Homo sapiens: one gene and its partners. The protein of the gene in region 2 purifies or fractionates together with the protein of the main gene of each other region. This does not show direct contact. Each region holds a gene or a part of one and is shown on either strand. Other genes may lie near its edges. The genes, in order: MYO7A, RIPOR1 and APPL2.

Region 1 (3,653 bases), on a different chromosome or scaffold from region 2:
CCCGCCCCGGAACCCTAAACCGGGCCATCTGCTGCGGGCCCATGGCAACGGCGGCTTAGGTGACGCCCGCGGGCGGGACGGCGAGGGGGCGCCCGCGCCACCCCGGCCCCCTCCGTCTCGGCCGAACCCCCCACAGCCCCACTTTGCCCGGAATCCCAGGCGGCTTCACTGGCACCGCGGCGGTAGGCCCGGGATAAACGTGGCACCTGGCACCGCACCTGACGGCAGTTTTGGAAAAAATCGTCATGTTTTTTTCTATGTTTTCCATGGAAGGAAACACGAGGATGTTATGGACTAGAACGCGGTAAACTCCCGGGGTTTTTAAGACTAAAGGAGAGATGCATTGAAGATATTTCTGGCTCCCTGGCTGCCTCTGGGGAGTGAGGGCAGATACAGTTTCCTTCTGGGGTAAGTTTGGGGGAAAGCCCCTGAAGAGGCTATGTCCTCCTCCCGCAGCCCCCGAGGTCAAATAGCAGCCCACGTCCATCCTGCAGAAGAGGCCTTGGAGGCCTGGTGTGGGGTCCCCTGAACTCCCCAGGACAGCTGAACCACCTCGATGGCTCAGAGCTCTCCCTGCAATGGGCCAAGCTGGCCTCCTGTGTCCTAGCAGCCACACAGGGCTGGACACCAGGCGTCGGTCCACGCTGGGCTGTGAGCCAGAGGCCACCGTCCCATCCCGAGGGTCCGGAAGGCCCAGGCCCTGTGACTCCTCTCCCATTCCCTCCTTCTCGCCTTGCCCTGCCTATCTTTGTCCTCCTCCCCTCTTTCCTCCTTTTTCTTCCTCTTCTCTTTTCAAGGCCTCCAGTCTGCATTTGTGGCTCTCTGCATTGCCTAGTATCCTGGAAGCCAACTGCTCCCCAACGAATGAACAACGGCAGAGAGTGGGGGCGGGGGACTGGGTGGGGGGAATGGCAACGAAAAAGACGGTGATGCCTCACACAGGGCTCAGAGCCACCCAGGATGGGCCCAGTTCTACCCCACTCCCTGTCCCAGCCTTGGGAACCCAGGGCTCTGCTGTCCAGCACGAAGCTGACTGATCAGTGATTCCCACTCACTTCCTGTGACCTCTCAGGGACACCGCTCTCAGGAGAGGTCCTTCCCCCAGTCAAGCCGAAAACAGGCACACCTATCTCTCCCCGCCCATCTATAGCAGTACATTGGGACAGGACCCAGACCTCAGACACAAGGAAGTGCTGGTGGTGAGCTTCCAGGCATTCTACCACGAGTTCATATAACCGACCTTCACTGAGTACAGGTTCAGACTAAAGTACAGAGGACACTGTTAACAAGACATGTCCTCAGAGCTCCCAGCCTGGTGTGGTGGACAGACCCAGGCACAGATAAGGATGGTACCACCAGATAAGAGGCAGATCAGTCCCGGAGACATAGGATAGCATGGCCACTAAGAGTTTGGACCCTGGAGTCAGATGGCTTAGTTTCAATCCCAGCTCAGCCACTCACAAGCTGTGTTACCTTGGGCAAGTTCCTCAACCTCTATGTTCCTTTCTTTCCTCATCCGTCAGGTGACAAAATGACACTGCTTCCACGTGCTCGTGAGGATTTAACAGGTTAAGATGCGTAATGCACCTAGATTGGTGCCTGTTAGACCAAATGTATATGAGTGCCAGCCATGGTTAACTAAGGGAGTCGTGTTAGGGGTGACAGCTGGGTTTTAAGATTTTTTTTTTAGGCAGACATTAGGGGAAAGGGCATCCCAGGAAGAGGGAACAGCAAACTCAGAGAATCAGAGGAGAGAGGGAAGAGATTGTAAAGTAAGTCTGGCGGCTGGTGGCTAAAGAGAGGTCCCCTGGGGGAGACCCTGCAAGGTGCTAAGAACCTGACCTTGCCTGGTTCCAGAACGACTACTGAGACCACCCTTGAGCTGGAGGAATAGGCCTCTTCTCCACAAGTGGCAAAGACAGAGACTCTTGAAAGCAGCAACAGAGAGGTGACTCATTCTATACAACGAATCGTTAGTATGAGTCTCGGCTGATTTCTCATCAGAAACCACGGCGGCCAGAGGGCAGTAGGATGGCATATTTAAAATGATGAAAGAATAAAAAAACTGTCAAGAAAGAATTCTATATCTGGCATAACTATCCCTCACAAAGGAAGGAGAAATGAAGACATTCCCACGTAAACAAAAGCTGAGAGAGTTTGTCACTAGTTGACCTGCCCTATAAGAAATGCTAAAGATTAAAAGACATTGAACAACAACAAAACAAACAACCCATTTCAAAAGTGGGCATAGGCAGGAGTTTGATGGCACTACTGTACACCAGCCTGGGTGACAGAGTGAGACTGTGTCTCCAAAACAAACAAACAAACATAGGCATAGGACTGAAATAGACATTTCTCCAAAAAAGATATACAAAGCGACCAAAGGCACATGAAAAGATGCTCAACATCATTCATCATTAGGATAATGCAAATCAAAACCACAATGAGATACCACTGCACACCCATTAGGATGGCTATTACAAAACAAAACAAAACAAAACAAAACAGAAAATAAGTATTGGTAAAGATGTGGAGAAAATGGAACCCTTATGCACTGCTGGTGGGAATGTGAAATAATACAAATGTTGTGAAAAACACTATGGCAGTTCCTAAAAAAATTAAAATGAGAATTACCATATGACCCAGCAATTCTACTTCTGGATATATACTCAAAAGAATTAAAAGCAGAATCTCAAAGAGGTCTTTGCACACCTATGTTCAAAGCAGTATTAATTATAATAGCTAAAACATGGAAGCAACCCAAGTGTTCCTCAATAGATGAATGAATAAACAATATGTGGTATAAACATACAATAAAACGTTACTCAGCCTTAAGACGGAAGGAAATTCTGACACATGCTATTAATACAACATGGATGAACCTTGAGGATATTATGCTAAGTGAAGTAAGCCATCACAAAAAGACAAATAGTGTATGATTCCACTTATGTGAGGCACCTAGAATAGTCAAATCAAAACCAGAAAGCAGAATGGTGGTTGCCAAGGGTGGTGGGGAGAGGGGAATGGGGAGTTATTGTTTAATGGATAGAATCTTTATTTTACAAGATGAAAAGAATTGCAGAAATTGATAGTGGTGATGGTCACACAACATTGTGAATGTATTTAATGCCACTGAACTATGTACTTAAAGTGGTTAAATGGGGCCAGCCATGGGGCTCACTCCTGTAACTCCAGCACTTTGGGAGGCTGAGGCGGGCAGATCACCTGAGGTCAGGGGTTCAAGACCAGCCTGGCCAACATGGTGAAACCCCATCTCTACTAAAAATACAGAAATTAGCTGGGCATGGTGGCAGGGACCTGTAATCCCAGGTACTCAGGAGGCTGAGGCAGGAGAATCACTTAAACCTGGGAGGCAGAAGTTGCAGAGTGAGCTGAAATCACACCACTGCACTCCAGCCTGGGTGACAGAGTGAGACTCTGTCTCAAAAAAAAAAAAAAAAAAAGTTAAGTGGTATATGTTGTTATATGTATTTTAAAAAATACAAAATTGGAAAAAAAAATAGAGTACAGTAGACAGTGATGCAAAGCCATACAAAAAAATTAAAGAACACTGGTAAGGGCACTTACATAGATAAATAGAAAAGTCATATTTAACCAGGCACAGTGATAGGCGCCTGTACTCCCAGCCACTT
Region 2 (3,753 bases):
CGGGAGATGGGCGGGCAAGATTGCCCTTGCTGGGTGAGAGCAGGTAGGGAAAGAGCTGAACCCCTTGAGCTAAGGCAGAAGGGCCACCTCAACTGGTGGGGGACTGGCTGATAAGAACCAGGGGACTCTCTGGGCTCATGTCAGCCCTATAGTCTGTTCCCAGGATGGGAAATAACCCAGATCCAAGGTTCCAAAGGTTATGGGGCTTGCAGCACAGCCAGGTCAGGATGGCCGTGAGTGGAGGAGCCCTGACCTGTCCGCATGGCCCCAGATCTTGCAGCCCCGCTATACTTCCTACACACCAAGACTGGCACACCCGGGTGCGGCGGAATATCCCACCACCTGGGCTGCCCATCTCAGCACTGTGCCAGGCCAGCTGCCTCTCTGGGAGTCCCCGGGTCTAGCCCCGCCCCACCCCGGGGCCGCCCCGACCGAGGTAAACAGAGGCTAAAAATAACCTGGGCAAGGGGCGGCTGCAAGGGAGAAGGGGGTCCCTTCTGAGCCTGTCCTTGTCTCCATGGCAACTGCCCCCAAACCCGGCGGCTGACGTCATCTCGCAGCTGCCCAAGCGTATAGGAGGGAGGGGGAGCGGCACAGCCCCGGACCCCCCACCCCGGAACCGGGCGGAGGCTGTCGGGTGGCCTCACTTCCTGCCGGCCCCCTCCCTGGTCAGCTGGTTACATTCCCTGGCCGCGCGCTGGGAGCCAGGCGGCCTCCCCCGGGCCGGGCCTGGCCAGGGCTGAGTCCGAGCGGCGACGCAGAGGGGCCGCCGTGACTCACCCGCGCCCTCCCCGCCCGCTTCTCTCAAGCGGGACCCAGCCCAGAGTCCTGAGTCCTCCCCTCACCCGCACCCAAACCCAGACCCCTGGGGCGGCTCACCTTGCTCCTCTCTCCCGCCGCAGTCACAGGACCCAAGCCGGAGAGGGCGGTGGAAGAAGGAGCTATGCCAGTCCTCCTTGTCCCGCTGGAGTATTTTGTACCTCAGCCCCCAATTATCATTCCTCTCCTCCCTCCAATACCACGGAGGTGGGTGTCGCAGGGGCAAGGACTCAGATCTAATCCTCGCTTCTCCCAAACCAGCTGTGTGACCTTGAGAATACTACTAACCTCTCTGGGCCTGTTTCTGCATCTGCCAGATGGTCATAACCCTCCTCAGATGCTGTGCGTTGGCCGAATGCGGCAGGCCCAGGGCGCGGCCCCGCAGACTGCAGCCAGGGCACAAGTATTGTTACACGAGGCTGCGCACAGTAGGTGCTGGGGCGGCCAGCCTGGACACACGTTAGAACTGGCTGGGGAGGGTCTGTAGGGGAGGCCGGACTCAGGGCTCACCCTGGAGAGGAGGACAAAGGGTGCTGAATCTGGACTGAATCCGACCTCTAGCCCTGGTGAGCAGCCCCTTGCCCAAACCAGTTCTGCAGAGAGCCCAGGCCCGGCTGTTGCAGGAACCTTGCGCCAACCTCCATTTCCAGGGAAAAGCTCCGTTCCCCGACAAGGACGATCCTCTCCGGCTTCGGCTACGCCAGGTTTGGGCGGAGAGCCCGGCTCCAGCCCAGGCTCGGTCACCTCGGGGCCGGCCACAAAGCCGCTTAGGCCGGCCCCTAGAGCTAGGAGGATTAGCTCAGCTCCTAGGCCGGCCCGCACCCTTCGTCGCCCCCTCCCCATTTCCAGCCCAGCCTCCCCTGCGGCGAAGGCAGCAAGGGCTCCCAGGGAGCGCGCGTGCCAGGGCCCAGGCTGGCGCCTTGAGCCCGCTCTCTGGCCTGGCCCATCCCAGCGCCCCGGGGCACCGGCCGCCAGGGCCTTGCCGTGGGAGGAAGGCAGCAGCGCCAGGCTCTGCAGGCCCGGAGGCGGCGGCTTTTGTGGGAGAAGCTGCGTTCTCCACGCCCGGGGGGAGGGGAGGAAAGACAAGGCGCGGCCGGGGTCCGGGAGATGGGGTGAGGCGGGACAGAGCCGCAGATCCCGGACCCACCGGGCGGCGCCGGCGGGGGGGCACCAGAACCTCCGCGCCTGCTCCCCGCCCGGCCTGCAGCCCCGGAAACGGCGCGGGACACTCACATGGCTGCGCTGGGCTGCGCGGACCTCGCGCTGTCCTTGCGCTCGGAGGTGCCCGGCCTGGTCGCGCCGCAGCTGCCGCTGTCGCCGCCGCAGGCGCCGGCCCCTCCCTCCGCCCGCCGCCCCGCCGCCCCTCCCCTGGCCCGCCGGGCCCCACCCCCTGCGCTCCCGCGGCTCCCGCACCCCTAGAGGCGCCCACGGCTCGCTCCGCCCTCTCGGATAACGGGGCAGGCCGGTGGCCCACGCAGCCCACCAGCTTGCAGGGAGGGCAGACCCTGGGGGATGTGAGGGAGGCTTTCTCACGCAGACCCTAAAACGGTGAGCGCCAGGGAGCCCCGCCTGCTTGTCCCCTCCCCAGATCCCTCGGGCTCTGGAGACCTTGCGGGCCCCCTGTCCGTGACCACCTGAAACAGGTCCTGGAGCTGCTACTGCTGGCTTAGGCTGGTTGGTGGAAAGGATCCAGGGCTGTTGTGAAGGCCTTGGGGAGTCCAGAAGCCGCCTGGCACCTTCTGGGTCCAGACGCTGCCCTTCAGCCCTGCCATTTCAGCCAGCCTCAGCGTCGCTGTAGAGGCAGGCCGCCCTTTCTGCCACTGTCTGGCTGGTAAGTCCAGGCTCATAGCCGGGTCATGCATTCCCCACTCATTGGGTACTGGTTTTCGGGCAGTCTTGGGGTGGGGACGCTGGCAGGGTCCGGGTACAGGGCCATGTGTTGGGCAACCCAGTCCTTTCCAAAGCCGGGGCTAGAATGCTGGCCCTCCACACAGTCGGTAAAGGTGGGGCTGAGAGTCGACCCCATGTTGGGGTCAAAGGGCCAGTTCCACTCCCCCGCTCCTCCCATCAATCAGACACCCCTGGCCCTTCCAACCTGGACACCCCTGAGGCTTCTCCAGGCCTTGCACTCCCGCAGCCCTCATGTATGTCAGACCTACCCAGGAATGGTTTCAGGGACAGTAAGAGGTCCCTGAATATCTGTACCCCGCCCCCACCAGTCCTGAGGGCTGTTTTTTTGTGTGTTTTGCTTGTTTGCTTGGTTTTGTTTGGTCGGGTTTTTTTTTTTTTTTTTTGAGACAGAGTGTCACTGTCGCCCAGGCTGGAATGCAGTGCAAGCTCCACCTCCCAGGTTCATGCCATTCTCCTGCCTCAGCCTCCCGAGTAGCTGGGACTACAGGCGCCCACACCACGCCCGGCTAATTTTTTGTATTTTTGGTAGAGATGGGGTTTCACCATGTTAGCCAGGATGGTCTCGATCTCCTGACCTCGTGATCTGCCCGCCTTGGCCTCCCAAAGTGCTGGGATTACAGGCATGAGCCACCGCGCCCAGCCTGTTTGGTCGGTTTTTTAGAGATGGGCTTTCTTCATGTTGCTCAGACTGGTCTCTAACTGGGCTCAAGCGATCCTCCCACCTTGGCCTCCCAAAGTACTGGGATTACAGGCTTGAGCCACCTCTGCCTCACAGTTCTCCACTCTCCAGCCCCTCCTCTTGGGCTTCCTTTGTAGTGCCCTTTTCTTTCTTTCTTTTTTGTTTTTTTTTGGGGGACGGAGTCTCCCTCTGTTGCCCAGGCTGGAGTATAGTGGCGTGATCTCGGCTCACTGCAACCTCCGCCTTCTAATTTCTATATTTTTGGTAGAGATGTCCCGGCTAATTTTTATATTTTTGGTAGAGATGGGGTTTCACCATGTTGGCCAGGCTGGCCTCCACCTCCT
Region 3 (2,341 bases), on a different chromosome or scaffold from region 2:
TAAAGAAATGTATAGTGTTTCACTTTTCAAACTAATAATTGTTTAGGACTTCAGATTCTACCCCTCTCCCAAAAAAGTCTAAGCAAGAAAAAAAAAGTTCAGGGGACTGTGGTTCTTGCAGTCTGTCAGAGAACCAATTGATCTAAAGCAGTTATGTCATACAAATTTGTAAGGCATTAGTGAACAATGAATTAATTTTACAGTGCATAATCTCATACTGGCTTAGACTGGCTCACTATTTCTTTTATGGTGTATACATTTCAAATGGATCCTATATTAACCTAATTTTGGATTACAAAAGTTGTTTTATCCACCATTTTAAAAGCAACACCTTTAAAACTTTTAGCAATGGGATCACATATTCTACTCATGTTGACTGGAAGTATTTTTTGATACTATATCCCCTCTTCTGTGATTTCATTATGCCCTAGTTTTTGGGAAATTGAATGTTAAAGCTATAGAGCTGACTTTAGTTTTCTTCCAGGGATGTTCTAGAAAATAACCACATCTAACGAAAGAAACAGAATATTTTTTATTGCTAGGTTAATTTATTACAAAGATAATAATAGTCTGTTGAACTTAGTTACAGTTAAACACACTGTACCGATTCAAAATCATTATACTAGTTTGATAGGGAGGAGGGATGGGGGAGTGGGCTGGGGTTCCAGGAATTGGAAGTATCAGGGTGGAAATAGGAACTTTATACCAAGCCCCATGACCAGCTGTGCTTCAAGTGAGTTTTAAAATTAATTGGTCCCTTCCCTGAAGAGGGTCTGGCTCAGAAGAAACAGGAACTGGTAGAGCTGCACCCTGTCCACAGTGATCCACTACTAAAAATACTCATACCTAGGAGGACCTTAAACTTCTGAATGCTGGTTCAGTAAGGCTCCACTGTAAAATCAAACATCTTTTGTGGTATTCATTTTTTTATTGCTTGATGTCTGGAACAGTTACCGAAACTAGACCTGTATCGCGCATCTCTACTAGTGCTTGGGCCTCAAAGCAGTGCTCATCACCTAACTGCACAAAGAAATGCTATTAGGTCCAATTATGAGATAAGCTGAATTATAAATACACAATTTTCAGAACGACAGGCACTTAAAGCTCATTAAGTAAAATACAAAAATAGATTATATTAATAAGAAATATTTAGTGTTCATCAAATTGTAAATCTAGGCTTTTGCCATTTTTTAAAAAGGATACTGGAAACTGAAAAGAGATGACATTCATATGAACAATGCATTTTTCAAACTTTTGTTCTGAGCGCTGAACAATCTAAGAAATTTTAGCGCAATCTAAGAAAAAAGACTTACCACAAAGCACCTAAAATAACATTGTAGATGGGTGGGAACGCTGTCAACCATTTCTTAGTTTCCCTCCCAAGTCTCAGTATCAAGGCATCAAGATTACATTCCACAAACGATTGTCAGCCTTCGGAAATCAGGTCAGTGTGCCTGTATGTCAGAGACGTTAAAACCCTTAGGAGGTAGCTCTCCTTCCTGTTTGCTCTTCCCCCACAGGCGCAAGTGAGTTATGCTTCGGATTCTGCGCCTCTATGTTCGTTTGGATTTCCATCATCGTCATCTGGTTGATCGTTTAACAGTACATATTTTCCGTCATTGGTTAGTGGTATGGACAGCATTAATTGAGCCAGTGCTTCTGGATCCTGAAGTTAGGAGAGTTTAAAAGGGAAAAAAGAAAAGGCTTAAGATGCATTTAAACCCCTTTGGCCTGGCTTTCAATATGTTCTGTAATCTAGTCTTGTTTCTCCTGACTCTTGTGTATATGTGCCTTCCGCTGAGTCTCCTTGCTTCTCAAACTCAGGCATGTCACTTCTAGAATCTAGACTGTTTTCCTCTGAGCCAAAATATTGTTTACGTAGTCAATTCGTATCATCTTCCCAAAGATTCCACAGAGGAACTTCCTTCACAGAACTTTTGTCTTCTCTATCTTTAAACTCCTTCTTTTCTCACGTTTAATCTATACCAGAAGTTGGCAAACTATGGTCATTTGGCTAACCATTTGATTTTTATTGGAAAACAGCTGCGGCCATTTATTTACATACTGTCCATGCTGCTGCTGCTTTTTTTTGGTGGGGGGGGGGGTGGTGCGGCGGTTGGAGACAGAGTCTCGCTCTATCGCCCAGGCTGGAGAGCAGTGGTATGATCTCAGCTCACTGCAACCTTCGCCTCCCCGGTTCAAACGATTCTTGTGCCTCAGTCTCCCGAGTAGCTGGGACTACAGGTGTGCACCACCACACCCGGCTAATTTTTGTATTTTTAGTAGAGATGGGGTTTCACCATGTTGGCCAGGCTGGTCTTGAACTCCTGACCTCAGGTGA

The links.
Region 1: the proteins of RIPOR1 (region 2) and MYO7A purify together in Homo sapiens (affinity purification with mass spectrometry, with the first as the bait; one large-scale study listed by BioGRID). This does not show direct contact.
Region 3: the proteins of RIPOR1 (region 2) and APPL2 fractionate together in Homo sapiens (co-fractionation; one large-scale study listed by BioGRID). This does not show direct contact.

Annotation. Positions count from the first base shown.
Region 1 is NC_000011.10:77,134,593-77,138,245, reverse strand, and holds part of MYO7A (unconventional myosin-VIIa), read right to left. Parts: intron 34-3,653; exon of another isoform or gene 1-33. UniProt on the Homo sapiens protein: Myosins are actin-based motor molecules with ATPase activity. Unconventional myosins serve in intracellular movements. Their highly divergent tails bind to membranous compartments, which are then moved relative to actin filaments.
Region 2 is NC_000016.10:67,527,214-67,530,966, reverse strand, and holds the start of RIPOR1 (rho family-interacting cell polarization regulator 1), read right to left. Parts: upstream 2,139-3,753; 5' UTR 2,053-2,138; exon of another isoform or gene 1,145-2,052; coding exon of another isoform or gene 1,108-1,144; exon of another isoform or gene 880-1,107; intron 367-879; exon of another isoform or gene 1-366. UniProt on the Homo sapiens protein: Downstream effector protein for Rho-type small GTPases that plays a role in cell polarity and directional migration.
Region 3 is NC_000012.12:105,172,783-105,175,123, forward strand, and holds the end of APPL2 (DCC-interacting protein 13-beta), read right to left. Parts: intron 1,667-2,341; coding exon 1,532-1,666; 3' UTR 518-1,531; downstream 1-517. UniProt on the Homo sapiens protein: Multifunctional adapter protein that binds to various membrane receptors, nuclear factors and signaling proteins to regulate many processes, such as cell proliferation, immune response, endosomal trafficking and cell metabolism.